2 separate regions of the Homo sapiens genome follow, and region 2 is linked to region 1. The links come from fine-mapping of genetic effects on gene expression. A gene starts in region 1. The other region holds a variant in brackets. All regions are shown on one strand. Distances are between the middles of the regions. Region 1 holds the start of LINC02691 (long intergenic non-protein coding RNA 2691). Region 2 overlaps LINC02691 (long intergenic non-protein coding RNA 2691).

The links.
Region 2: its variant is fine-mapped to the expression of LINC02691 in lung (GTEx, PIP 0.92).

What each region holds. Positions count from the first base shown.
Region 1 is chr14:104,218,077-104,233,091 of GRCh38, reverse strand. It overlaps LINC02691 (long intergenic non-protein coding RNA 2691), which reads right to left and starts at 9,508. Exons shown (of 3, transcript NR_146612.1): 1 at 9,276-9,508. RefSeq lists an enhancer at 9,654-10,546.
Region 2 is chr14:104,239,005-104,254,019 of GRCh38, reverse strand. The region is part of intron 1 of LINC02691 (long intergenic non-protein coding RNA 2691); the gene reads right to left. Among named protein-coding and RNA genes, the nearest start is that of LINC02691, 23 kb to the right of the region's middle. RefSeq lists enhancers at 13,339-14,183, 14,184-15,015. The variant C/T (reference allele first, on the strand shown) is at 6,722.

The sequences.
Region 1 (15,015 bases):
TGTAGAAAGCAGCCAAATATGTCATCCTAAGCTGGAGCCCCTCCTCCTACTCCTGGGGAGCAGCAGTAGAGTAAGCCCCATACCACCTGCACAAGCACCCCCTCCCCATCAGCAGACCCCACATCAGTCACCACAGCTTCACAGCCTTGACCCTCAAGCTTTCCCCATGCTGCCTGCCTACCCAGCCTGGTGTCCTGGTAGTGGGAAGACCTACCACTGGACTCCACAGACAAATGCCAGTGCATGGATCCCAGGGGGTTGAGCCACTTGATCCCTGGATCCCATGGATCTGGCATACTCAGCAGCCAGATTAGCAGCCTCCCTTGCAGGCCGGACTTGGGGGATAAATAGAGGCAAGGATGGAATTAGCATCTTCAGATCTCTCTGGGATGGGAACAAAACCACAATCTCTGCCAAGTTGATGATAATGAAGAGATGATGACAATGACAGGGATGATAATAATGATGACAATGACCATGATGATGATGGTGATGATGGTGATGTGATGGTAATGATGTGATGGTGATAACGATGATGATGACAGTGATAGTGATTATAATGATGGTGATATGATAGTGATGGTGATGATGGTGATGATAATGATGGCAATGATGATGGTGATGATGATGGCAATGATGGTGATGATGATGTGATAGTAATGCTGATGACAGTGATGGTATAGCTATAATGATGATGATGTGATGGTGATGATAATGGTGATGAAGATGATGGTAATGATGGTGGTGATATGCTCATGGTGGTGTGTAATGGTAAGGATGGTGGTGGTGACGATGATGCAATAGTGATGATGATGGTGATGGTGGTGATGATGGTAATGGTGATGATGGTGGTGAGAGTGATGTGATGGTGATAATATTGATTATGATGATGATGGTGATGATGGTGATGGTAATGATGGTGGTGATGATGGAGTGTAATGGTGATGGTGATGATGATGGTGGTGGTGATGACGGAGTGTAATGGTGATGGTGATGATGACGGTGACGGTGATGATGGTGATGATGATGATGGGGTGATGGTCATGGTGATGATGATGGTGTTGATGATGTTGATGGAGTGTAATGGTGATGGTGATGATGGTGGTGGTGATGGTGATGGTGGTGATGTTGATGATGGAGTGTAATGGCGATGGTGATGATGGTGGTGATGTTGATGGAGTGTTATGGTGATGGTAATGATGATGGTAATGATGGTGATGATGTGACAGTGATGATCATGATGGTAATGATGATGGTGGTGAGGGTGTTGTGATGGTGATATGATGATTATGGTGATGGTGACAATGACAATGATGACAGCCATCTTCTGTTAACCACCAACTACATGTTAGGTACTCCCCATGCATAGACTCATTTGATTCTCACAACCATTTAGAAAGATGAATGGCATGTCCTCCCTCCATGGAGGAGCAAACTCAGACTCCTCAACTTTAAATGTTCACTAAAGTGGACACAGAGCTAGAGTCAAGCTTTAGGCTCAGGCCAGGCCCCACCACCAAGTGCTGGTGCAGGGCTGGACTGTATGAGCCCTTGTCATTGTTCTCTGAATTATCTCAGCAAGCCTGCTGTGGTTGTCATTTTACAGATGAGGAAAGTGGGTCCCAGATGGGGTAAATGACTCAACAAAAGTCAAAGCTCCATCAGCAAGTGGCAGGTCTGAGGGGCAGCATCACGTCCCAGAGTGCTGGAGGGGCAGGCAGAGGCCTGGCCTCTTGGCAACTATGAGCCTCCATGCCTTCATCTCATCTGTCATTATAGCAGTAAGGGTCATCCTGACCACCTTAGAGGTGCCCGAGGAGATGCACAGAATGTCAGGCACCCACCAGGTGCTTGGCAAACCCCGCAGGGTCTAGCCAATCCCAGAACCAGGCTCCAGCTCCCAGTCCTGTGCTCCTCTCCTTTGCTGCCCTTGCCCCTCTGGCCAGACCTCCAGGACCATCAGTGGACTCAGGTCGTGGCCTGGGAAGCTGCAGACCTGAGCGAGGAGAAACATGGTGAGGAGCAGCTAGAGGCTGAGCCTCCTCCAACATCCCCACCAGGACAGCCTTGTAAGCAATGAAATGGTTAAGGCCTCCCAGCCCAGCAGAATTGGCTCATTATCATTTCTAATATGGATCAATACTCTTCAGGCATCTGACAAAGCCGGCAGCTCTCTGTTCCCTTCCTGCCCTCCAAACATAAAAGATCCCCTAAGCCACACTGGCCCGGGGCTCTGGCCCTAGCCCCCTCCTCAGGCCTCATCTCCATAGTGGTCTTAATCAAGTCGTGGGGAAAGATGCAAGTCAATAAGTCCTCATTGATCACCTCCTCTCCCCTCCACCCCACTGACATTCTGTCAGCCCCTCCCCCACAGCCAGCCGGGCTAATGGGGGTCCTTGCCTCCCACGTAGGTAGTGGGTGGGGGGTGCTCGTGAAAGCCCTGATTGCTCTGAGGCCCAGGGCCTCCGTCGCAGCGAGGGCTCCAACACAACATATGCCTCCTGCCCGACGGCTTTGTCTTCAACAATAAAACAGGGTTTCTCTCCCGCCTCAGCCCTGGGTCCAATTTATCAGGCCTGGCACTGATCATCTGCTTCCCTGTCACCAGCCGGACTTGGGGGATAAATATAGGCAAGCAGATACAGAATTACCGTGACCAGATCTCTCTGGGTCGGGAACAAAAACCACTTTACACTCCTTATGAAGCATTTCCACCATCACAGACATGAAGGCAAAGGGGCGGGACCCCAGCAACCAACGGGAGCTCATCCTTCCCCTTGTAAGAGCCAGAGGAAGCTGCCACATGGAGCTCCCAGGCTGTGTTCCTTTGGGAAGTCACCTGCAGTGACTGAGCCTCAGTTTCCCATCAGGGACACCTACCTTGCAGGGCTGCGACAAGCACTCACGGAGAGAATAAAACAAAGGATCTTCCACTGAGCTTAGCAGACAGTGGGTGCTCCGTGAACGGCAGTTAGCGCTGCTGCCTTTAACGGTGCGACTGTCCACAGCCAGGTATGGCATTCGGGATGTGTCACGTCCACGCCCCACGGAAATGTCAGTGACAGTTCGCACCCTTGTTCGTCCTCAGCCATCACTCCTAGAGCTGCCATCTGCAGACAGTGACCAGCTCAGGGTGGCACCACAGGCCCGCCCTGCCCTTTTGAGGCTCTGCAGGGCTGCCGCAGGAGCTCCAGGTAGATTGATGCCCGCCTGTGGCAGAGGTCCCCAGCGGCTCTGCACAACATCTCAACAAATGTTCCTGGACAGGCGGCCTGGGCTGGAAGCCGATCAAACACCATAAATACTGCGCACCCAAGGCCGTGACTACATTACCGCACGGTGTGTAAATAACAGGCCCGGGGTGGAAACACCCGGGAACAACCTCTAGCCAAGTAATTTATGCCCCTGTGAAACCCGATTAGATCCCAGCTAAGTGACTTCGCGGACGGGCAGGCCGCTTTGGAGAGAGAGAGACTGAGTGAGCGGCCACCACAAGCACCCAGGGGGGCCTTCGTGGGGCCATCATCTCCCCTGTGAGGGGGCAGGCTTGGAGCTCAGGCATCCCATCAGGCTGGGTGGGGTAGCATCTTGGTGACCCAGGCCACCCAGGGGTGATGACCCCACTTTAGCGTGTGGTGGGAGGCACCCTGCAGATGCATCCTACCCAGGCAGGATGGACACCCCGTCCGCAGCCCCTGGGACACAGCAGGCCCAGCCTCTCGGTGCATTTCAGTCTAAATGTAGATGCAAGTTCAGTCAAGGCCTCAGCCAGGAGCCGCCCTGCACAACGAGGCTAGCATTACATGTGCCCCTCCTGGGCAGGGTCCCCGGCAGATGGAAAACATGGGCCTGGGGCGGGGACGGCTCCTGACCCAGGATAAGGACCACAGTGGCCAGGTCAGGGTGGCACCACAGGCCTGCTCTGCCATGCCAGCCCTGCCAGGCTGACCACAGTTAGCAGGGTCTGTCAGAGGTGGCCGGGGCAGCAGGAGGGCAGGACACAGCCCAGGCCTTGAGGCAGGCACCACTCAAGAGCAACCGGCCACCAAGTCCTCCCTCAGAAGGGGCTTGTGTCACATCCCCTTGCACTCCCCGCTGCTCCCCCTCCACAGCCCCCCAAAGGGGCTCTACCCCTGGTGCCCATTTCCCCATGGCCCACATACCCCAAGTGCTGCCCCACGGCTACTGCTCCTGCCTTCTCGCTGAGCCTCGCCTTGGGCCCACCCTGCTCCCTGCTTCCCTCTGGCCTGGCCACTCACCAGGCAGTTGGGGCACACTGGTGTGCAGATCTGGGGGCCGGGCACTGAAGTCAGCTCAGGCTCAGAAGCCAGGCAGAGCTGGGTTCAAATCCCAGCACTGCCCGTCTTAGCTGAGTGACTTGAACAAGTAATGTTAACCCAGCCTCAGTTTACTCCTCTGTAAAGGAGACAATAGTGCCTCCCCTGATTTCCCTGATAGGGGTGGGTATCCCAAGTGAGAGAGAGAAGGTCAGTACCCAGAAAACCCTGGGGGACGGTAAGAGAGTGCTCTGGAAGCCACCTGTGGCTACTGGCCAGGTGGCAGTGGTGAGGGAGGGGTGGGTGAGGCTCAGGAATCTGGACCCATGGGAACAAGGGCTGCACTGGGACCCAGGCTGCGGGCGTCCCCTCTCGCCACCTTGGGCAAAGTACTCCACCTCTGTGAGCTCCCAGGGGGCCCTGTCTACCCATCCTCACAGGAACACAGGAAGGATCTGGTCACGTCACCTCTGCTCAAGCCCTCTGGTGGCTTCCTAGTATTTCTAGAGTCAAGTCCAAGGCCTTTCCACCTCGTACCCAGCTTCCTGCCCATTCACTCCACCCTCCTGCCACCACCAAAGTCTACGCTCCAATCACCTTGAACAAGTTACTCTTCCCAAGCAATTCTACCTCTCCATGCCTCCCCCTAGAGTCACCTTAGTCTCCAGCTCTGCCTAGTGAATTCCTATTGATACTGCAAGACTCAGCCCAAATGGCCCAACCTCTACGAAACTGTCCATTGTTCTCAAAGCAGAGTTAAGTCACACCTTCCTCTGAGCCCCCACAGTAGCCTTGGCTTAGTCAGAAAGGAGATCAGTATGACTTACCCCTTTCCAGGAACTACTTCCTGTTCTCCACCCCACAGCTATTGCAAACCTGCTAGGTTAGTGCACTGTGACCCCACTGCCCTGGCCCCAGCTGAGTGATCCTAAGGGAGCCACCTGATTCAGGCTGGGCCAATCAGAGCACTTTTCCAGGGTTACTGGAACTTGAACTAGGAAACAAAAGTCAATTTATCTCTGGTGGCCAGAGGTGTAAGGTGCAAAATTGGGGAGCCTCCAGCCACACATTTGCCACACGTGGAACAAACCAGTGAGAGAGCTGAGGCCTGACCTGGGAAGGAGACCTCTGGGCCTTGGCCCTGGTGGCCCCTAAATCCCAGCTGCCTCCCATCCTGGGGATTCAACCATCCTTAGATTCCACAGGATGCCCAGGTCTCATCCAGCAAATCCTTCAGCCCCAGCTACTGTGAGAGTTTCTGTCACTGTTAACCTGTGAGTCCCCATCCCTGGAGACAGTGATGGTCTCATCAGGCTGACGGCCCTACATGGGGCAATTCATTCAGCCCCTAATGAAAGCTCAGCCGCAAAGCCCCCACTGACACGGGTTCTTGCAAGGCCTAGAACCAATTAGATATTTCTACTTTTAAATTTTCTTTCTTAAAGAAGACCCCCCAAAGTTGCACAAGCATAAGACCCCTGGGATCCTTCTCTGGCCACTGCAGCCTGGGAGTCTCCAGGGCAGGCCTCTGTCTGTGAGTCTCTCTGGGCCATGCCCAGCACACAGGAAATGCACAGGAAGCGAGGACACAACCCCATTGAATCCCTGGAGCCCTGCATCTCATAACTAATTTAGCACTTCCTGGCCTGGCCCCCTTAATAACACAGGCACAGGAAAGCGTGCAGAGGAGGGAGGACAAGGAGGCTCAGCTGCTGACACCTGCAGGTCAGTTCTGTCTTTCTTCTAGCACAAGCCTATTGCTAGCAAGGGGCCAGGCTGGCTCACTGTGGCACCTCTGTGCCCCCAGGCCCCACAGGGGCCACCTCATCTGACCACTGTCCCAGCGGCCAGAGAGACCTGCTGGGTCTGCACTGAGAGCCTGGGCCCATGCAAATGACCCCTCCTGGTTCAGGAGCCACCACCACAAGGGCTATGAGGAACCAGGGACCCTCATCCCATCCCCGGCACCACTAAAACGAAACGTTAGGCTCATCGGAGTTCCTACCACTAAATCAAACACTAATCTGCTCCCCCTAATTTATCTAAGACAATATTAGCCAGACAAAATGAAACATAAATGTGAGTATGAGCCCGGCTATCTGGGAAGTGGGAGCAGGCGGCCTGGGGAAATGGATTTATCGTGTGTTTGCTGAGGCAGGCCAGGCATGCATGCCCGCAGAAGGCTGGTAGCTCCAGCTCGGCCCGGGCTAGCCTCACACAGGCGTCCACCTAAAGGCACATCAGCTTCCTCCCCAGGAAACAGTGTCGGGCACCATTGGAGCTTGAGAAACGGGAAAGTGAACCAGGGTGCCCTGCAGCTGCTGAGAATAATTCACACCAAAAGATTTCTCCAAGTGTTAGCGGACCTAAAATATCAGTGAGAGAGTTGGAAGCAAGCCGTATACCCAGAAGGACCCTGGTGGACATGCTACTTTGGTAAACAACTAATGGGATCCTAGAGTCAGAGGCAGAGGAGTAGCCCCACATAACCCACCAGTGACCATCAGTGACACATCTGTCAGGCTGTCAGGTGTGTGGCATGTGGCTGTCCTGTCTAACTTCCACCACAGCCCAAGGCCACCGGGATTTAACCCAATTCCCAGGTAAGAAAACTGGCTCCAGAGAGTGAAAACCACTTGCCCAAGATCCACGTCAATGAGATCTGAAGCAAGTCACACCCACCTTCACTCAGAGCAGCCCCGGGAGCCACACCTGCCTTCACTCAGAGCAGCCCCAGGGAGCCACACCTGCCTTCACTCTAAGCAGCCCGCGGGAGCCACACCTGCCTTCACTCTGAGCTGCCCCTGGGAGCCACACCCACCTTCACTCTGAGCAGCCCGCGGGAGCCACACCCGCCTTCACTCTGAGCAGCCCTCGGGAGCCACACCTGCCTTCACTCTGAGCTGCCCCTGGGAGCCACACCCACCTTCACTCTGAGCAGCCCGCGGGAGCCACACCTGCCTTCACTCAGAGCAGCCCCAGGGAGCCACACCTGCCTTCACTCTGAGCTGCCCCGGGGAGTCACACCTGCCTTCACTCCGAGCAGCCCCGGGGAGCCACACCTGCCTTCACTCCGAGCAGCCCCAGGGAGCCACACCTGCTTTCACTCAGAGCAGCCCCAGGGAGCCACACCCGCCTTCACTCTGAGCTGCCCCCGGGAGTCACAACCGCCTTCACTCCGAGCAGCCCCGGGGAGTCACAACCGCCTTCACTCTGAGCTGCCCCAGGGAGCCACACCTGCCTTCACTCAGAGCAGCCCCAGGGAGCCACACCTGCCTTCACTCAGAGCAGCCCCGGGGAGTCACACCTGCCTTCACTCAGAGCAGCCCCGGGGAGCCACACCTGCCTTCACTCCGAGCAGCCCCAGGGAGCCACACCTGCTTTCACTCAGAGCAGCCCCAGGGAGCCACACCCACCTTCACTCTGAGCTGCCCCCGGGAGTCACAACCGCCTTCACTCCGAGCAGCCCCGGGGAGTCACAACCGCCTTCACTCTGAGCTGCCCCAGGGAGCCACACCTGCCTTCACTCAGAGCAGCCCCAGGGAGCCACACCTGCCTTCACTCAGAGCAGCCCCAGGGAGCCACACCCACCTTCACTCCGAGCAGCCCCGGGGAGTCACACCCACCTTCACTCTGAGCAGTCTCCAGATCCCAGGAGGAAATGCAGCTGGGGTGATGGTGGGCATCTACCCACCATGGGTCAGCAACGCCCCCTGGGAGGCATCTTCCCTCCATCCCACCAACGACAGCACTGCTCTTAGCCCCACTCTGTTGAGAGTAGGGAGACGTGCCCAAGGTCACAGCAAGGTCAGGCCCTCCCTGACCCAAGCCTTGTGGCCTCTCCTCCACCCAGGCCGAGCCCAGCCGGCGTTCAGCAGCCAGGGACAGGCTTGCGGCCTGGAAACCTCTGGACCAGGCAGGGGCCCACAGCTCCTTCTGCCCCAGGTGTCTGTACAGCCCTGTGGTCACTGCTGCTCTGTCCCCTGCCTGGAAAATGGGCTGAAGCCACATGGATGAGACCACCTGAGGCAGCAGGTGGAGCCGAAGGTCCCTGTCCCTGGAGAGCATGGGGCCCCCGAGCACCCAAGGTCCCGGCCAGATCCAGCCCCTGAGCAGAGGCTGAGTGCTGTGGCATGGATGGGTGGGTCTGAGCCGGGAGCCCCCACTGTGAAGTGGGACTGGGAAGCCCAAACACCAGCAGGGGGCGCTCGGCTCAGATCACTGGCGCTGGCGGAGACACCAAGTCTGTAGACTGGCTCCGAGGTGGCCGGTGGTCTAGGGGACCCCCCACCCACACCCCTCTCTGGTTATCCCAGGGCCACCACAGACTACACGCCACCAGCCTGGCTCCTCCAGAGCAGACATCCAGCTTCTGGCCGCAGACCCCACCCAGATCTGCCTTCCAGCACATTCTGCCCCCTCCCCAGGGCCCTGGAGCAGATTACATCGAACCCCTTGAGCTTCCTGCCAAGGACAAGTGAGGGGCCAGGAGAGGGAAGCCCCATAAATCTCTTTGGAGACATGTGCCAAGATACCAGACACCAAAATCTCATTAGCAGGCTAAACTCTCGGGAGGAAATGGAAAATAAGTACCCGCAGATACAGGCCTGGAAACCGCAGGACCCCGAGCAGGAGACATGGATTAGTGGAGATGATATCCACGGGACAAGCTGTTGCCACAGGGGTTTTGCATGTTTTTTTTGTTTTTGTTTGTTTGTTTTTGCTTTAACTACAGTTTAAGTATAGCAGGACCCTCAGCACACCGGGTAGGTGGGGTTGAGGCCCTTTATTCACAAGAGAGGAGAGGAGGGAGGGCGAGGCCTGGCGGCAGAGGCACAGGGGGCAGGCAGGCAGCCGGGCCCTCCCAGGAGGGCATTCGTTCGGGAGCGTGGCTGCGCTGGGGCCCCGTCCATGCTGCTCAGAGCCCTGGCGCGTAACAGCTCCTTCCACGCAGGGAAAATCCATCCAGGTTTAATGGAAACATTAACCTCAACTCACCCGATTTCCTCCTCGCACTGAGGTCTGAGAACGGGAAGAGGCTCCGAGGCTGGAGCTCCCCAAGGCCTGGCACAGACGCGGGCCCACGGGTCCGGGAACACTCAGCGAGGGCCGGGACAGTGACAGTGGGTGCCTTCATCAGAGCAGAAGCAGCCCCAGGACGCCCCCACCCCTCTCGCCAGCTCAGCCAGCGTGCTCTTCACAGGCTGGACATGACAGACAGGAAGAGGAAAGCCCCTCCCCCAGCACTCAGCTGCTCATGCTCCCTCCGGAGTCTGCGCAAATTACCAAGGAAAGGGGGTGGCCCAGGCAGCTACGCCGTGTCCAAGGTCACCTGGTCCCCCTGGCGCAGTTCCAGGACACCCCAGGCAGGAGGTTGTCAGAGAAAGGAGGAGGCAGCTGGGGTGGGGGCGGGGGCGGCAGGCTGCCTGCAGAGGCGGGAGGGCAGGGTCGGGGAGGGGCTTTGGGGAGAGTAGGAGTCTGGGAGTGGACCACGCCCTCACACCCTGCCCCCTCAGCCATCAGCAGAGTGACCCAGAGCGGGAACTTGGCCAACGGTGAAGGCCACAGCAGGGGCCCAGAGGGGCTTGTACAGGGCACGTGCCGTAGGGTGCACAGCCACCACCCCGCGTGGCAGAGGCCTTAGCAAGAAAACTGAGGGAGTCTGCTGGGGGCCTCCAACAGTGGGGAGTGGGGGAGAAGACGCTGGCCTCCAAGTCCCTGACAGCTCCATCTATACCTCAGCAGGGAGGGGCAGGGTTGGTCCGAGACCAGGGTCAGGGCCCAACCCATTTTGAAGGGTCCGAGAGGCAGCTGCCCTCAAGAGACCTAGCTTGTGGCTTTGGTCTCCTCTGCACCCTTCAGGGCAGCCCTGTGCCATGACCCCGCACTGACCCTGACACAGGAGGCTGTACCCAAGGAGCTGGCACTTGGGGATGGGCCACAAAGCCATAAGAGCCTTCCAAGCAAAGACGCAGAAGGCCAGGAGTGGAGTCCCCGTCTCTTGGGCTGCAGGCCAGCACTCCCTGACCCATGCTGGGTTGAGGACCCCAGGCAGGCCTGAGGGACAGGCTGGCCGCATGTTCCCACCCTCAGGTGCCCCTGTGTGATGGCCTTGGTCACACCACCTACTGTCCCCCACCACATTGAATGACCCGCCCATGGGATCTGTGGTCTAGCAGTTTGAGACTAACTTCGATTTCTTCCTCTCCTTTTGTCCTGCCAGCCCCACCAAGAGGCCTGTGCACAGAGCCCAGGGGAGCCCGAAGCTCCCTGACACCATAGAGACCCCCTAACTGGCACAACGCTCCATGCAGGCAGAGCCAGGCCACAGCCACAGCACCATCAGAAGACGGGAGGCGGCTGTGCCTGGCCCAGGGAGCAGCAGGTGTGCAAGAGAGCAGGTCTTTCACCTGTGCTCCGAGGTGAGCAGGAAGATCTTTCTCCAATTGCCCTAAATGTGGGAGCCTGGTTTTCCATGTCAGAGAACAAACATTCCATCATTTTTATCTTTTCTGTCAGGTCCCAGAGCAGCTGCTTTGCCAGCGTCTCTGTTGGCAGGTGGCTCCATGTGAAGTCATCAGAGCCGGGCTCAGGCCACCCAGATGACGCACAGAGACAACCCCCCAGCAGGTCAGAGGGTGGCGGCCCAAGGTGGCTGCAGAGGACAAAGCGGGGAGGAGGGGCCTGGCCCCCCTCCGCAGGGTGCAGGCTCCCAGCACATCTGGGCGCCAAGGGTCCTGGTACCATGAGGGGTAGAGCAGCTCAAGGGCACCAGGCCAGCCACTGCCCGGAGGCTTCCCCAGCCCACACCCACCAGGGCTGCCCCTCAGCCTGGGGCCTTCCAGACCACCCTCCACCCACAGGGCGGCATCCCCCCTCTTCATGGCGTCTGAACACCTCTCATCTCTTCATAGCATCCGAGACCCTCCGGAACACCTCTCCACATCCACCTACCCGGGCCCCGGCCCTCTGTGCTGTTCTATGCTGCAGGTTTGCCCAGGGGGTGCCCCCACCGCACCCCCTTCTGGGGGCCAAAGGCTCAGGCTACACGCCTGGGGAGCACTGGTGGCCTTTGCCTGGGTCTCGGGTCCCCATGTTCCCCCACCCCAGCTCCTCGCCATGGGCTGACTCCCAGTCTCACTCGTTTCCGCTGCGTAGGAGCAGAGACTTTCAGGAAGGACTCCATAGTCCTTGAGACCACCTCTCTCCCCAGCTGTCAATGCCACCGGGGGTGCCTAAGAGCCCAGGGAGCCTGCATGCCACCCACCACGTGGCCTGGTGGGGAGGCTCTGACCAGCGTTTCATTTGCAGACCGGGTTCCTGGCTGTGCTCCCTTCCCTGGGGCAGCCCGGCCTGAGAGGCAGGAGTTCTGGGGACCTGGGGAGGGCACCTGTGCGGATGCAGGGTACACAGATGGCCTGCGGAGACAGTGGGTCCTGAGCGTGGAGAGTCACCAGCAGGTCCGAGCCTGAGAGAGTTGGGTGGGGCCCATGCAGGGTCGGCTCCAGGAGCTCCGGTGGGGAGAGTCAGGATGGGCCGAGAGCCAGCAGGGCAGAGGGGAACTCAAAGGGCCCCCAGTGTGCCCCATGTTCCTGACTTCCTAGGAGGCAGTTTCTGCAGTCCCCAGATACAGATGGGAACAGAGACACAGGGTGGCTGAGTTCCCAGCCGGGGCAGGTGGCTGGCAAAGGAGCCCTGGCAGAGCCCTGTGACCCCAGATTCCAATCCCCTCAGCCCAACGCCCTTTCCTTCCTCCTCTCCCTCTGGAGGACCCCCCGCCCCGCTACAGAGCAGGGTCCTGGCCCCGAGACGTCGCTTCACCCTGCTTTTCGCAGGGAAGCACGTGCAGCCGCGGGAGGATAGAGGGGCCCCAGCTGCCCCCGCCATGCCGCCCGCCACAGAGGGGACACGGCTTTGGACCACACGCAGAGCTCCCGCCAAGCTGGTGAGTGTAAAGTGGGCTTTTGTCGGCGGCCCACGACAGCTCCCTCTCGGGGTCTTCCCATGTCCTCAAAGACAAAGGGAGCTTGTCCCAGAAGAGGACCCTGGGGAGGCCTCGGGGCTGTCCTGCTTCCGAGGGAATGAGCCTGGCCCCCAAAGGAGCAAGCCCATCCCCCTCCAAGCCCTCTCACCCCAAAGCCAAACATTCCTTGAGGCCAAGCCCACAGGCCCATTGGGCTGCCTTCCGGAAGGGCGATAAATCCACAGGCGGAATAATCCCCAAGCCCAGAGCCTCCGTATATCAGAGGGACCAGCTGTCATCAGTTCAGTAGCCACCTCCTTCCTGGCCAGTGTTGGCCCCACACACACTCGTGCTCAAGTCTCGGGGAAGCAGCCACCGCCGCAGGCTGGGCCTCCTGCGGGGCGGGGGCGAAATACGTATAGATGTGGAATCCAGACCCAGAGACTCACAGCAGCATTGAGTGAGCCCCCCACACACGGCTAGCCTTGCCACCCCTCCTGGTTATGGGGACAGGCAGGAAGCTGACGTTATGTATTCATCTGTACCTCCGGAACTGTCACCGAGCCGCCTTATTTACTGACCCTGTTACCAGCCAATGTGGACTTCAGCCCAAAGCCACCGCCCTAATGGATGCGGATCAGGGTCAGCTTCTCTCAGAGAGGCTTGAACTCTGAAAGGGGATGATCAGCTTCTACGTCATTGGGGGAGGGGGCCGGGTGGACCCCGCTTCACATAGGATGTGCAGCCCTGAAGGGGTCAGGGTTTCTGGGCAGCTGCTGAGCCAAATTAAATACCACCTCCCTCTGAGTCTGTGAGAGAGGACACACGGCTGGGAAGAGCCCCCCGCCCCGCACCATGTCTGACTCCAGCCTACCCCACGTGCACCCTCCCAGCCAAGCTGGCAAAGAGGAGCCCCCTCCCCCGCGCCTCCCATCTGGAACCCACCCTGACATCCGCAGGCCGCTAATTGCACAGCGGCCGGTGCCAGAGTCTTCCCAGGTTGTTAAAATTCATCACCGAGTTCCCCCGACTCCAAGCCTGCTGCCCGCGCAGCCAATCGCGGCCACCCGGGCCTCATCCAGGAGGCGATCTGTGAGCCCGGGCACCTGCAGAGACCTCTGTCGCTATCCCATTAGGAGGGGCCCCAGAAGGATGCACACCAAAAGCATCCCGCAGCCTGTCATTAAATATTGATAAAAGGCAGGAGGGGAGAACACTATGCAAACTATTTATTGATTTTCCATGTGCGGAACTGAGATAATGAGAGGCCAGAGGACAGTGAGGGGCTGGGGGCCTGGGGGGTTGGGGGGCTGGGAAGGGACTCTTGGTGCCAGCTCAGCAGGGACTCATGGAAGGACCGGAGCAGACAGAGAGGCAGTGTCCCACACACCTGGGCCCGAATTCCAGCTTTGCTGCTTACGGGTTTTTGGTACCTTTTTTTTTTTTTAACAGAACCATTTGCTTTTTTTTTTTTTTTTTAACTTTAAAACAGTTTGCATAGTAAATGTTTAAGAATTGGTGGTCACATGTATATTATGAAAATCCCTCTGTAAAAAATCTCGAAGACCTGAATTCTACATCTACTTTAAAGAACAGTAATGCTTATATTTTCAAGAAAGAACAAAAATGCCGCCCTTTTCAGTGAAAAGGCACAGCCAGCCCCTGCTTCCAGCTGTGAAAGACCAGGCTGGACCCATGAGGCAGGTCAGAGGCTTCCAGGAGGTGTCCTCCCTGCCTGGTGGAGCCTAATGGCTCCAGAACATTCTGCTCTCCCAACAGCAATGCCTCACAGGTGGCACTGGGCACCCTACACGTCTCATCTCATTGGATCCTAAATTAGCCTTGCAGCCTGTACCAGGCCCTGTTAGCCCCAACTCACCAGCGGGGCTGAGATTGGGCCAATCTGCAAACCCACGTCTGCAGCGGCTTCAGAAACCAGCGGGTCCACCCTTCACTCTGGAGAGATTCTGATGCAAAGCAGTCCCTTTCAAAAGTAGAGTTTTTAAGAAGCAGCTGCTTGGTCATCCAGAAACCTCCATATTCCAGACCTGACCTTGCGGGTGTCTCCTGGCCTCACGTGTCTACACGGAGGATGCTTGCTCCTCAGTCCCCCAAGTCCTGGGAGATGAGGGGCCCGGGTAGGCACCTGTCACATTCCCTCAGCCAGGACTTCACCACCCAGCCCTGCATTGAACAAAATGTGAAAACTGAGGCCCAGGGAGGAGCCAGGACGTGCCCCAGGTCCCCCAGCCAGCAGGACAACGCGGGGCCTCCAACCCTCAGCCGAAGGCGCGGTTCCCTGCACTCCCCTCCCCACAGGCGCAGTCCAGGCCTCTGCACTGCCCTCCAAGGCGCGGGCTCCAGGGGACCTGCCACTGGCCCAGACAGGCCTCCCCGGGGCTGAGCGGAAATCAGGAACGACAGGGAAGGGCCCTGAGCCCTGAGAGGGTGAGAACTGCTTGTTTACGAGGCTAATCCCCCAAGAGAGCCCAAGGTGAGGAGGAACGGCTGAGCAAAATCATCACCGCTGCCACCATGTGGGCTCTGGTCTGTCCATCCACAGCCCCCAGGACCCAGGGGGGCCCCTTCATGACCACTCCCTACTTGGGAAGAGCCCCCGACATGGGAGCATACCAGCCGCCACTTCACTTCAGGGGGCCCAGGGCTGGGAGTTCAGGCTGTCGTCCTCAGTGGGCCCCGAGAGCACTCTCCACTCCCTCACCCAGTCTGGAGGATGAGAGTTCAGGCCAGCAGACACCTCTGTCAGCTGCTCAC
Region 2 (15,015 bases), 21 kb before region 1:
CCACACCCCTCCACGAGCAGCTCTGCACAGATGGACCCGCGTGCCTCACCGCAGTCCTTTCCATCCTGCCCCTGCTCCCCTCCCTTCTCACCCCCTCCACCTGGACCCCATCTCACGCCAGGCAGCCAGTTAACCCCTGCTGGTAGCCTTTCCATAGCCTCCCTCACTACATCTTGGTTTTTAAAATATTGAATTCATTGCCAACATTTCTAAACAGATCTCAGATCGAAGCCCAGGTTGCTGGCTTCTCGTGGTATATTGGAAGTCCCAGCCTGGCTCCTAAAGAGCAGCCGTCAGGGGGTACCCAGGGAAGCTCAGGGCGTGGCCCCCAGCCCTCCACTCCCTCAGCTCCCGCCTGATTTCTAAAGCAGCTGACTTCACCACGAGACCCCAGGACCAGGGCGGAGGAGGGCACAAGCCGCCTGGCACCATCTCCATCAGAACTCGGCTGGACAGCGGGGCTTTCTCTCCACCGGTGCTGGAGAACGCGGGAGCTTTGGGATGCCAGCCCCAGGACACCAGCTGCAGCCAGGGGCAGCCATGCCCACTGTCCAAGGAGGCACCAGGCCTAGGGGTGGCTGGGCCCAGTGAGAGGGGTGATGCCAGCGGGTGTGCCCACAGCAGAGGGCCTGGCCTGGCTGCAGCTCTCGACCTGAGTCAGAGGAGAGCCTGCCCAGACAGCTGGAGCTGTGGGGCCGCTGGAAGGAGGGGGTTACAGGGCACACAGTGGCCCCAGGGGAGGCTGTGGGGTAGGAAAGGAAACCACCCGCCGTGGGTGCTGCAGGCCGGACCTGTTTGCCAGAGGCAGGTTCACTCCTCCTAGTGATGTAATGGTGCCCGTCTGTAGAATAGAAGCACAAGGCTGGAAGACATTGTACAGTGTCTATTTCACCAGGTTCCCTGGCTGGTAGGTGGTACAACTGGGCTTTAGAGCCCTTTTCTGCAACACGAGGAGATGGTCAGGTCCACCCAGAAGTCAGGAAGCAGGAGGAGGAGTCCTCAAAGATAGGAACCTGCTCTATCCTTCAAGACACCGTCTGAACCCCTCCAAGCTCCGTTTGTCCCCTACTGTGGAATAGCGGGTGGGACAGGTGCTACCGCACTCTGGCCTCTCCTGACTGCCCGGCTCTGTGGCCACAATGTACTTGCTGCTGGCCCCAGGCATGGCCAGGAGGTGGGAGCAGCAGCCTTTGTGAGGGCAGGGAGTGAGTGCCACCAGCCTTGAGGGCTGAGAGTGCCCAAGAGGGACAGTGGGCCCAGGGTGTGTTCTAAAGGGAATTTCATGCCCTGGGCACTTTTCCAAGAGCTGGAATTCTGAGGTCCTGGGACGCTCGTGGCCCACCACCCTTAGGTTGCCAAACAGAGCCAGGATAGGTGTTGCGAGGGTTGCTGGAGCCCAGGTGTGGGGCCCAGGCACAGTCACACCAGCCCCTCTCGCTCCCCAGGATGCAGCACCCAATGGGGCAGTGAGACCCCTGAGACAGAGGCTGCTGCGTATGGAGGGCAGCACGGTGCAGAGACCACCCGCCAGGGGACTGGATAATGGGGCCAGGCTTGACGGTGTCTGTGGGGCAGGCAGGGTGGGCTCTTAATTGGAAAAGGAGGTGAAAAGAGAAGAAAGGACTGGAGGCTGAGGGAGCCAAAGCAGCCAGGAACGCCGTGGACAAAGGGTGGGTGGCAGGCGGGAGTCGGCACCCCCTGCATGGGGGCCTCAATAGGCGTGAGAGATCCCGCCCACCCGCACCCTCCCCACACACCCATCTGCAGGCTCCAGCCCAGCAGGCCCCAGGGCAGCTGTTTGGGGGAAGCAAGACGAAGTCTGAGGAGGGGGCTCCTCAGCCACAGGCCCCCCCAACAGAGTGGGAGCATCCTCCCAGAGGCCACAGTGAGCACTGTGGATGAATGGATGATGCGCGGAGGAATGAATGAATGAGCGGGTGAGTGGGCGTGTGAGCTCCCGACCTCGCAATGAATGAATGAGCAGGTGAGTGGGCCTGTGAGCTCCCGACCACGCAATGAATGAATGAGCGGGTGAGTGGGCGCGTGACCTCCCGACCACGCAATGAATGAATGAGCGGGTGAGTGGGCGCGTGAGCTCCCGACCTCGCAATGAATGAATGAGCGGGTGAGTGGGCGCGTGAGCTCCCGACCACGCAATGAATGAATGAGCGGGTGAGTGGGCGCGTGAGCTCCCGACCTCGCAATGAATGAATGAGCGGGTGAGTGGGCGCGTGAGCTCCCGACCTCGCAATGAATGAATGAGCGGGTGAGTGGGCGCGTGAGCTCCCGACCTCGCAATGAATGAATGAGCGGGTGAGTGGGCGCGTGACCTCCCGACCACGCAATGAATGAATGAGCGGGTGAGTGGGCGCGTGAGCTCCCGACCACGCAATGAATGAATGAGCGGGTGAGTGGGCGCGTGAGCTCCCGACCACGCAATGAATGAATGAGCGGGTGAGTGGGCGCGTGAGCTCCCGACCTCGCAATGAATGAATGAGCGGGTGAGTGGGCGCGTGAGCTCCCGACCACGCAATGAATGAATGAGCGGGTGAGTGGGCGCGTGAGCTCCCGACCTCGCAATGAATGAATGAGCGGGTGAGTGGGCGCGTGAGCTCCCGACCACGCAATGAATGAATGAGCGGGTGAGTGGGCGCGTGAGCTCCCGACCACGCAATGAATGAATGAGCGGGTGAGTGGGCGCGTGAGCTCCCGACCTCGCAATGAATGAATGAGCGGGTGAGTGGGCGCGTGAGCTCCCGACCACGCAATGAATGAATGAGGGGGTGAGTGGGCGCGTGAGCTCCCGACCACGCAATGAATGAATGAGCGGGTGAGTGGGCGCGTGAGCTCCCGACCACGCAATGAATGAATGAGCGGGTGAGTGGGCGCGTGACCTCCCGACCACGCAATGAATGAATGAGCGGGTGAGTGGGCGCGTGAGCTCCCGACCTCGCAATGAATGAATGAGCGGGTGAGTGGGCGCGTGAGCTCCCGACCACGCAATGAATGAATGAGCGGGTGAGTGGGCGCGTGAGCTCCCGACCACGCAATGAATGAATGAGCGGGTGAGTGGGCGTGTGAGCTCCCGACCTCGCAATGAATGAATGAGCGGGTGAGTGGGCGTGTGACCTCCTGACCACGCAATGAATGAATGAGCGGGTGAGTGGGCGTGTGAGCTCCCGACCACGCAATGAATGAATGAGCGGGTGAGTGGGCGTGTGACCTCCTGACCATGCAGGGGCTGGAAGCGCCCTCAGGATCCCCTGCCCAATCACTCACGCAGGGCAGGGTCCCTAACCCTCACTGCCCCCCGGGTGAGGATGTCTACTGGGCCTCCCCTCTCCCTCCTCCCTCCCTCCTTCCCCCTTTTCACCCCCTCTTTCTCCCTCCCCTCCCTCCCCCTCCACCTTTACCAGGCATTCTCACCTCCTCACTCAGAACTCCTGCCAACACTGCCCTCTGACACCCCCTCTGCAGCACCATGACCCTGAGTGCCCTTGGCCACCCCCACCAGACAGACCCTCAGGGATCAGCCCAGGCCTTCTGGTCTCCTGGGCCCACCAGGCCACCGCAGGACCATGCAGGACCCAATGCTCAGGGCCATGCACTCCAGCTGCCCAGGTGGGGGCACTGCCATTTCACACTCCCACCCTCACCATCACCCCCCGGCCTCGGCCCCATTCCCCATCCCAGCCGCCCCCTGCAGGCCCCACCCCCTACACCGCGAGATCCCCAATGCACCTCCTACTCTGCCTTGCTCATGTGGTCCCTCCACACCAAATGGGGGGACCATCTCTGCTGGGAGGTCCCTGCCCAGGTGCGGCCTAAACCCGGGAGGCCTGTGCAACAACCCCACTCATCTCCCCAGCAACCTCCACGAGGAAAGCCTTATGGTCAGAGCATGAAAGCAGGGGACTTTAGGGCCAGCCATGCTGGGGCCCAATCCAGCCCCATCTCTGTCCTGCCAGTCACACAGGGTGGCAGGTCCCATCCCACCTCTGAGCCTCAGTTTCCCCATTGAAACCTGCAGGCAGCATCCCCAGCCGGGACTGTTGCAGGGTCCTATGAGACGCTTGGTGCCAGGGAGGTGCCAGGCAGGTACACCACCAGCACAAGGGAGCAGGTCCCAGCTCCCTCCCCGGACACCGCAGCTCCCCAGCACTCCCCCAGAGCAGCCCCGCTGTGGGGGGTCAGAGCCTCCCAAGAGCAGGACCTCTGCTGTCACCAGGCACAGAGTGCCCATGGGGCCAGAGAGCTGGCCCAGGCCCACACAGCTTTCCCTGGACATGGGGGATGAGGGAGACAGGCCTCCCCTGGCCTCCCACTCCTAGCTCCTTCTGTCCCACCAGGGGGAGGGTCTCATGGGCACAAATTCCCCAGAACTACCCTTGAGTGAATGGCTGGTTCAAAACTTTTAATTATCAAAATATACATGTATGTCTATTTAATTTGCTTTTATGAAACTCAGATCTCAATTTAACCTGGATGGTCATCTGGCAGGTCACGGGAGGGCAGTTCCAGTCATTCATGACCTCTCCTCGTTCCTCTCTTCCACTGGTGAGGGTTGGGGCGGGCAGCTGAGGCCACCCTTCCTGGCAGACCAGGCCAGCACCCACCTCTCAGCCTGCCCGCCTGCGTGCGTGCCCACCAGCGAGGAAGATCCAGCCTCACCCTGAGCTGTGGAGAGGGCGGCCTGGGTCCCCGTGGTAGGCTTAGGCCCAAGCCTGAGGCTCTGGTGCTGGCCCTGCCTGATCCTGGCCACCTCCCTTTGGCTGGGTCCTCATGGGCAGAACCCACTCATGACAGATTGTTCTCTCATGGGGCAGTGGCACAGCTGCCCCACCTCCAGGGCTGCTGGCGCATTGTATGAGGCCACCTGTGAGAAGGAACCTGCCCAGCCCTGGCAGCTGGTAGGGGCTCAATCAATGGAGGTGACAATGACGCCGATGACAATAATGGTGAGGACGGTGGTGGCATCATGAGGAAAAAGAGTTGGTCATTGGAGGTTCTGGGGGTCAGATTTTTGGATCTCGGCCTGAAGAAGCGCCTTCGGAGCGCAGGGATTGTTTGCTTCACAACAAACTTCCTGAGCCTGCAGGCAGAGGTTGAGGAGGGCCCACCAGCGATGCCTGCGGCAAGGCCAGGTCAAGCCAGGCCTCCTGGATATCCCCGCCCCTGAGTGCCTGGCCCACTTCCCACCTCTCCTGGGCTGAATTACGTTTTCCCAACTTCCTATGCTGAAGGCGGCCCTCGGGGTGCGACTGCCTTTAGAGATTGGGTCTTTATCGAGGTTATTAAGGTGGAATGAGGTCACTGGGGTGGGGTCTGATACAGTCTGACTGGGGTCCTTGTAAGAAGAGGAGACTGGGACGCACACAGAGGGAAGGTGGCCATCCGTAGGCCAAGGAGAGAGGCCTCAGGAGAAAGCAGCCCTGCCCACGCCTTGAGCCGTCTTCAAGCCATGACATGAGAGAACCCACGTCTGCCGTGTGGGCGCCGGCTGTGGTCCTCCCGCAAACTCATGCACCACCCTCTGCAACCTGCCAGCACCACAAGGACACCCAGGCTCTGCAGGCCCTGCCACTGTCTGACCCCCAAGAGGGGCACGGACCAGCCCAGCCACCAGCCCCGGCAGAGCCCAGGTGTCCCAACTCCTTTAGATACAGACACCCCTGCCCAGAGGGGACAGCATTTCCTCCTGAGCGAGGAGCTGCTGTCCCCCAGGGCCTGGAGGCCTGGGCAGCCACCACTCAGATGCTTGTCTGTTTGTCCACTTTGTGCCTGCCACAAGCTCACTCGGCAGAGCAGGCAGCTCCAAAAATGGCCCCTCCTCACTGGTGGGGAGTCCTGGTCTCCCCACAGCCTTGGGTGGAGACAGGAGCCCCCATTCAGGCCTCTCCCTCTCCAGAGGTGCCCTGGGCCACCAGAGGGGCCAGCTGCTCCCCACATGCCCCCCAGCCCTCTCCAGCACCCCCCTGCCCATGATGCCCTGCTCCGCTCTCCTCCTCAGCAGGCCCGGTGGACTCACCCTCAGCCACCAGCGTCCAACCGCAGGGCAGATTTTGGTGACATCCAAATTGCCAGGCAGGTTGCAGAGGTTCCAGCAGTGTGAACCCGAGGAGGGACCCTGGGCTGATTTTCCCTGTCTCAGGCTGTCACATTCCCAGAGGCTTTTTCACCGAGGCTTTTAACAGCCGCAACTCTGCCCCAGAACAAATTATGTGCAAACCAGGCGGCTGCCGTTCATTCTCCCTCTGAGCCCTTGTTCCGGGCGGGGCCGGGGTGAGCATGGCAGCCCGGACGCCTCCTGGGGCTGAATCTGGGAGCCCAGCACCCCCAACCTGACCTCCCGGCTCAGGCTGCCCAGGGAGGGTGAGCAGGGCCCAGCAGCCCCCAAAGGCCCTGTCCTCCCATCCCGACACTGCCACAGGGTGACCGCAGTGCAGGGAGCCCCTCGTTCAGCAGTCGGCACCCCAAAGCCCTCTGCAGCCTGGAAATGCAGCACTTCCCCAAGGCTTCGTGTGGCCCCCAGGACCATTCCCCACTGCCCTGTGCACCACAGGCTGCAGGACCCACACAGGACTGGGAGCCGCTGGAGGTGCCAGGGGCCTCTCACCACCCCAAGCACACAGCCCCGGACCACGGCTCCGGGAGGTCCTGACTCACAGACTTGTGCTCTCAGTCCAGAGCGGAGCCCTCCCATAGACATCTGTCCCCTCCT[C/T]GGGGACACACACACTCTCACACTCACATCAATGCACAACACACACACTCTCACCCACTCACACATGCACACACTTCCGCTCGCTCACAGTGGCACACACCCCACGGCCAGCAAGAGGGCCCTGGCACTGCAGGCCTCCTGACTCCCCGGCCAGGGCACCCTGTGGCCCCAGCTCCTCTGGAGGGGCGGACTCTCAAAGGCCCCAGGGCCAAGACGGCATCTCTTGCACTGTAGAGTGCTGTGTAGGCCCTTCCCTGGACCAGTCTCTGAGCCCAACCAGGAGTAGGTCCAGGAAGGCAGCCATCACCATGAGACCTCTGAATCTGGGCACCCCAGCTGAGGGGACAGAGATGGCTCATTCTTCCCTGCTATCTGCCTGTCTCCCTCCCGCCCAGCTCTGGGCCACCTCCGAGGCAATGCTGGCCTGTGTCAGAGTGATCTCTGCATTGGGAAACAGCGTCAACGCTGGCCAAAGCCTTCATCCTGGCCAGGCTAGGAGTCATCCTGGGAGTGGCCCACGAGGCAAGGCAAACGCCTGCCCCGCCTGCCCAGCCCCTGGCCTCCCAGGACAGACTGCATTGCAATTCTGCTGCAGGTTGATACTTCCTGTCGACACATTAAACAGGCTTCTCTTGCATTCTGCCAGGGTCTGTGCATCTCCTCCACCCCCACAAGGATGCAGTGTGTTTGAGCTGTGTGTCAATCTCATCAGGGCGCAAAGGCGCTCTGCTGAGGTCTTTGCAGCGTCAATGAAAATCAGGTCCAGGAATCAGCCTAGGAGTCTGCTCAGCAGCAGCCCTGGCAGCCCCCATCCAGCAGGATCAGGGCCCTGCCCAAAGAGAGGTAGGTGCCACCCTTGCCCCTTGATGGCAAGGGGACTTCAAGTAAGCCTCTCCCATGTGCTCATTCTGTCCTTCTGTGGAAAATGTAACTGCTAGGGCTCTGGGTTAAGAGCTCAGCCAGGAGCCCGGACCCCACTTCCTGGCTCCCTAGAACCTTAGTTTCTTCATCATGGAATGGGATTTTTTTTTCCTTTTATCCAATTATGCTTTTTGCTATTGTTGCTTATAATCTTTTATTTATATTTTGTCCTTATTACTTTTCATATCATTATAACTGGCCAGATGTTTAACTTGTATCTTTTTTAATTTTTAATTTTTGTGAGTACATAGTAGGTGTATATATTTATGGGGTACATGAGATGTTTTGATACAAGCAGGGAATGTGAAATAATCGCATCATGGAGAATGGGGTATCCATCCCCTCAAGCATTTATCCTTATTCAGTTATTCTTTTAGCAATCAGTGCTGACTATGTGGCTGGCCTAATGTAGGAATTCAGCATACATATACCACTGTACACTAAACGTGAATGTCCCAGGGCCCTGAGGAAAGAGCTCTGGACCAGAAGTGAGCATGGTTCAGGCTACACACCTTCCACTCAGCAAATAGATGTTGTATAGCAGATGGCTCAGAGTTGAGGGTAAGAGTATGGGGTCTCCACCCAGACACTATCATCTGACTCCCACTTCAGCCTTTGTGAAGGTATCTGACCTTTAAAAATTATTTAAATCCCCTTGCCTTGTTTTCCTCCTTCAGAGAATGAGGATAATAGTTAGAGTCACTCTCAGGCCACTGAGAGACCAGATGGACTTCACTGTTCACAGAGCTCAGGCTATGCCTCGTCAGGATGGTGCTCAGGTGGTTCAGCTGCTGTTATTACTGCCACCCACATTATTGCTGTGTCCCCACTGGCTCTGCCAGGCCATTGAGGCTGGAAAAGGGCGCCAAGTGTCAGTGACCATGATGCATTCTCCATCCTAGGGGGCAGCTAGCCAGGGGAAATGAGGAGGGTCATTGTAGATGGCAGGAAACCCAGAGATCCATCCTGGATCCACCCTGGGGTGGGTGTCACCTGCTCTTCAGAATGCAGTGGAAAACACCAGGTGAGGGAGAAGTCCTCACCTGTCTGTAGCTCGGGCAAGGTTGAGGTATCCCCTTGCTGCATCCCCCTTTCCCTCACACCAGCCTCAGCCTCCTGCTCTGTGTCTTGCCTTGGGTGGCTGGAAGAGGAGCAGGCCAGGCTGTGTCACTGTGAACTGGGAAGCACCCTCTATGGGCAGGGATGGGGTTTCTGTTGACCACCCACTGTCCTGGGCCTGAGCAGTCATCCTGCATGGGAAGGCCGGGGATCTGACCCTGACCTCCCCACTTAGTGGATCGTTCACTTCCCATGCAGGGCAGGGGACAGGTGTCTGCTCACACCTGCTCAGGGAGGGTAACAGGCTCTATCTTGGCACAGAGAGGACCCCAAGAGGCTGGGAGCCCAACAGCACATGCCCCCTCCACAGCCATGCAGTCCCCAGAGCCCACAGTGTCCACTGCCTTGGGAGCCCTCCCCAGCCCATCCTTATCCCTCCAAGCCCCCTTCCCACCCCCGACAGCTCTTCCACCTGCCGCAGCTGCAGGAGAGCAGAAGGGGCACCGACCACCAGGAGCCGCGGGCCCCAGGGCCACAGCATGCTTCTGGCCGGGGCAGGAATTCAGGGTCAGGGGAAAGGACTAATTATGGCTCGAGGATAAAAACGTGAGCCAGGCAGCTGTGTGCATGGAAGGAATGCTCCCCTCAGAGACACGTTTTCCGACTCCTGGACTGCCGAGAATGCACGCTTTGACATTTATGAGGCCCGGGTCCCCCATAAACCCAGATTCCAAAGCGGCGGACAGCTGGTCTGATCCTGGGCATCCAAGGTTGCAGAGCCCTGGGCCCCACGGCCATTTACAATGGGGACATTTGCATTCACTCTGCAGCTGAGGAGCCTTGCTTCTGGACCTGCTGACATTTGCTGAGCAGCTACGGAGCCCAAACTGCAGAATCTGGAGTCACCTTCGCACCGGCAGCAACTTGAGAAGTGCAGGAGATGTGTTCCTTCAGCAGCTGAGGGGACAGAGGCTCCAAGAGGCTGAGAAGCTCCGTCGAGGCCAGGAGCCAGCCGTAACCAGCTGTCTCCCTGCACATAACTGCCCGCTCCAGCAGCACAGGCCCTGGCTGGTTGTTATGCTTTCCAATAAGAATCAAATTGGAAAACAGTTTCCAAATGTCAGCAGTGTTCTTGTTGGGCAGCAGTACTATTGAGAGATGGTTGCTCTTTATTTCCTTTTCTATATTTTCTGCTTTTTCCTGTCCTTACAACAGAAAATAGGAGATGTCTCTGTCCATAAGTAGCAGATTAGTGACTAGGACCAACTCTTCCACTGAACACAACTAGAAAAGCTGGATTAAAATATTTCAATTGGCCAGGCATGGTGGCCCATGCCTATAATCCCAGCACTTTGGGAGGTCAAGGTGGGTGGCTCACTCGTGGCCAGGAGCTCAGGACCAGCCTGGACAATATAGAGAAACCCCGTCTCTACTACCAAAAATACAAAAAAAAAATAATAATAACCTAGCCTAATGTGGTGGCGCACACCTGTGGTCTTAGCTACTTGGGGGGCTGAGGTAGGAGGATCCCTTGAGCCTGAGAGGTGGAGGATGCAGTGAGCCACGATCAGCCTAGGTGACAGAGTGAGACCCTGTCTCAAAAAAAAAATTTTTTTCCAATCTTCTTTAAAGCAGAAAAGAGCAAATCAGGTAGCAAAGAATGCACTACCAGGCCAAAACCTTGGAGGAGTTGAGAGCCCAGCAAGTACTGCAAAACATAAGCAAGAGTCAGCTGCTTCTGCTTTAAAGAACTTTGCAGCCTCAGGAATGACTGTTGCACCCATCAGCCCCCTCAATGGCAGGTGAGGGAGAACCAGCAAGGCTCAGAGGACTCTTAAGAGCCAGCCATGGGCATCTTTTTCCAATCCCACACTCAGTGATGTTGTGTTGGTAACTTGAAGTCAGCCATGGCAGGAGTGTTTACACCATGGGAATTGGCAGGTGCTACAGATCAAAACTGTTTTTTTTTATGAAGAGCCAGTTATTAATTATTTATCAGCATGGCATTAGGGACAACAGAGTCAAAGCCCAGAGTTGGTAAGAGAGAGGAATCCGACAAGGCCCCAACTCTAAGCCTGAAGGCCATGGGTGAGTCAGAAGTAAATCAGTCCTTGTGTGGGCCTGCCATTTGTGATGGTGACTTCAGAGGTCCTGCTCCAGGAAATCTCAAGGCTTAAACTTCGTGTAAAATACTTCCAGACAGGTAGTGCCCCACTAGGCACCTGCAAAAAGCAAACCAACACCATCCTTAAAGAAAGGTACTATTGGCCAGGTGCCGTGGCTCATGCCTGTAATCCCAGGACTTTGGTATACTTGAGGTCAGGAGTTGGAGACCAGCCTGGCCAACATGGTGAAACTCTGCCTCTACTAAAAATACAAAAATTAGCCGGGTATGGTGGCACATGCCTGTAATCCCAGCTACTCAGGAGGCTGAGGCAGGAGAATCGCTTGAACCCGGGAGGTGGAGGTTACAGTTAGCTGAGCTCACACCACTACACTCCAGCCTGGGCAACAAAGTGAAACTCATCAAGAAAAGAAAAGAAAAGAAGAGGGGAGGGGAGGGGAGGGGAGGGGAGCAGAGGGGAGGGGAGGGGAGGGGAGAGGAGAGGAGGGGAGAGGAGAGGAGAGGAGGGGAGGGGACAGAAGAGGAGAGGGGAGGAGAGGAGAGGAGAGGAGAGGAGGGGACAGGAGAGGAGAGGAGAGGAGAGGAGAGGAAAGGAGAGGAACTATCATCCTAAGGCTCAAATTATTCTTACAAGCAATTTTTCAATACAATCTCTAGCACACAAAGATAACCACACACAAAATGAAATTAAATTCACAATCAAGAGCCAGCAAAAACAAAAGACAATAGAAACAGATGCACAAAGACTTCAGGTTTTGGAATTATAAGCAGAAGATCAGATCACATCAAATAACGATGCTTGCTAAGTTTAAAAGATTCAAAAATTCAAACATATCACAGGAGACTGAAAACTATAAAACATGTCAGAGAAGATTTGGAAAAGAACCAAATAAAAATATTTAAAACTGAAAATTAACCAAAAATTAGAACTCAATGCCTAAGTTGTTTTTTTTTTTGTTGTTGTTGTTGTTTGAGACAGAGTCTGGCTCTGTCGCCCAAGCTGGAGTGCAGTGGCGCGATCTCAGCTCACTGCAAGCTCCGCCTCCCGGGTTCGCGCCATTCTCCTGCCTCAGCCTCCCGAGTAGCTGGGACTACAGGCACCCGCCACCACGCCCGGCTAATTTTTTTTTTTTTTTTTTTTTTTTTTTTTTTTTAGTAGAGACGGGGTTTCACCGTGTTGGCCAGGATGGTCTTGATCTCCTGACCTCATGATCCGCCCGCCTCAGCCTCCCAAAGTGCTGGGATTACAGGTGTGAGCCACCATGCCCGGCCAATGCATAAGTTTTAACAGCAGATTTTATACAGCTAAAGAAAGATGAATAAACTAGAAAACCAATCTAAAGACAGTGTCCAAAATGCAACAGGAGACAAAACCAACCAAACAAACAAACAAAAACAGGAAAAACAAATTCAAATTGTATTTCTACATCAACAAACAAGTAAAAAAATGTAATTTAAAAGCATCAAAGAATATTGGGCATCTAGGAATATATCTAACAAATTTATCTGAGACTAAAAATTGTATTGACAGAAATAAGGAACACCAAATAACAAGATAAAACATGCTCCTGTATTGGAAGATACAACCTGTGAAGATGCCAGTTCTTCCTGAATTGCTTTGGTTCAATAATATTCCACCCAAAACCCCAACAGCACTTGGTTCTGTGTCTATGGGAAGCTTAACAAACTGACTGTATAATGTGAATAGTAGCATAAAGAGCCTAGAGCTGCCCGGATACCCTCAAGGAAGAATTTTTTTTTTTTTTGTAAACCTATAACTGCTCAAAAAATAGTCTTTTTTTCTTTTCTTTTTTTTTTTTTTTTTTTTTTGAGATGGAGTCTCACTCTGTCACCCAGGCTGGAGTGCAGTGGCGCAATCTTGGCTCACTGCAACCTCCACCTCCCAGGTTCAAGCTATTCTCCTGCCTCAGCCTCCCAAGTAGCTGGGATTACAGGCATGTGCCACTATGCCCAGCTAATTTTTGTTTTGTTTTTAGTAGAGATTGGGTTTCGCCATGTTGGCCAGGCTGGTCTTGAACTCCTGACCCCAGGTGATCTGCCCAGCTTGGTGTCTCAAAGTGCTGAGATTACAGGCGTGAGCCACCGCGTCCAGACTAAAAAAATAGTCTATTAATTAGAAACAATAACAGATTGGCATTATCTAAAAGGGTTGAAGAGGCGCACATCTCATGACCTGGCAATTCCACTCCTGGGGAGGGACCCTAGGACAAGTGGGCACATGGGCGAGAGTGTTCACAGTAGCATGGGCCACTCAGCCAATTCAGATACCACCCAAGTGTTCATCAACAGCAGAATGGATGAGAAGCCTGTTGTATGTTCGCATGATGGAACATGGTGGAGCCATGGAAGCCAACGGACTATAGCTAGAGAAACCAAGAACTCAACACACTGAGATTATTTCACACCCCTATACAGGAAGATGCAATGTTATCAAGGTTGGCTGCACATCAGACAAAACAGCAGGTGAAAGAAACAAGGAACAAAGCAATCACCTAGCTTTATTCTATTTACATAAACCCCCACCCTGGCCCCGACGGGGAAAGCCACACCAGCTTGTTTAGGGTTGCTAGGACAGAAGTGTTGCCCATATAAGGAGGAGGCAAGAGTGACCGCAGGTGCAGGGGCTCTGCTGGAAGGGTGCAGGGGGAGGGGAATGAGGCTGGGGAACTCTACCGGGTGATCTGGATGGCAGTCACACAGATGCGGGCTCTGAAGTTACACATCCTGTTGTACATTTATGATGCATGTCCTTTTCTATATGGGTGTTGCATTCAAAAATAAAATAAGCATCAAAACAAGAATCGGCTTTGTTCTCTTATTTGATTTATTCTGCTTAATTCAAGGTGCAAATGACCAGCCACTGTCATCACTCCGGGTCCAAGCATCCCCCAGGCCGCATGGCATTGGGCACCTCTGGCATTTCTGGGCGAGTGGACCGGCCAGCCCCAGCCTCCTCGCCCACACAGAGGCTCTCGCCCAGCGTCACCAGGGCCTGGTGTGGGCCTTGTCCCATGGCCATGAAGCACCCTCCTGGGCCAGGCCGCCCCAGTGCTCCCTGCCCTGGAAGCTGCCTCCTCTGCCGTTTCCTGCCTCCTCAGCACAGAAATAACCCCACGTCAGGCACCAGCATGTGTGTGTGGGCTTCTCCCAAGCACACGCAGAGAAGTGACTAACGGGGTGTCACTTTACCAGCGCCTGCAGCGGGGACCCCCACGTGGGCCAACTGGAAGCTTCCAACAGGCTCGCGTTGTGCTGATCAATCATTAATCTGGACATTCAAAAGCATTTTATTTGCTTGACAAGGAGCTGATTGCTGAAGTTGCCAGGAGCCCGAAGTCATTTTTCTCCTTCCTCCCCCTATGAAAAAGCATTCTCCTCCTGGCTAGAGGGGCAGCAGGGCCTGCCAGCGCAGGTGGGGTCCTTGCTGCCCCCCGTCTCATGCTGAGAACTGCAGCGCCTGCCCCCAGCCCCACCACCTCCAAGGCCTTGGCACCTGAGCCCCTCACTTTCTCTTCACACCCCTTCTGCCGTCCTTTCTCATAGCTCTGCCCCCTGCCCTGCCCTGGCCCAGGACTCACCAGCTCCCTCCCCCACAGGGCATAGGCCAACTACACCCCCACCCCTGCAGCCTTCAGGGCCAGCCCAGAGGCCACCTCCACCCATGTTTGGGGCCCCTCTCCAGGACTCCCAGGGCAGCCTTGTTCTCCCACCCCTCCTGGCAGTGCCTCCAGCACCCTGATGCTTGTGCTGTGGCCTTCAGACCCATCCAAAATAAGTTAGGCATGGGAGGTCACTTCATGATCACCAGCTTGAGCCAAAGGGATTGAGACAGTGGCCCATACACCCAGCCAGCCTCAAACAGACCCACTCACCCCGGGGCTTCCCCTCAGGCCCTGTCTCGCAGGAGTCACAGCCTCGAGCATGGCTTCGGTCTTCAAGAAACACCCCCATGGCCTCCCCAGAGCCTAAATCCAGCCCTGAGCAGCCAGAAAGTTCAGGGACAATCACCCCCATGACACAGAGGACAAACCGAGGCCAAAGGAGAAACCTCCTCCAAAGACAACGCGGCACTGCTCACCTAGGGCCCTCCGGTCAAGCCACGAAACTTGCCCCTTCCCTGAGGAGGAGCCAACGTGTTCACCGGAGGGGTCCCTGGCAGCGGAGGTGG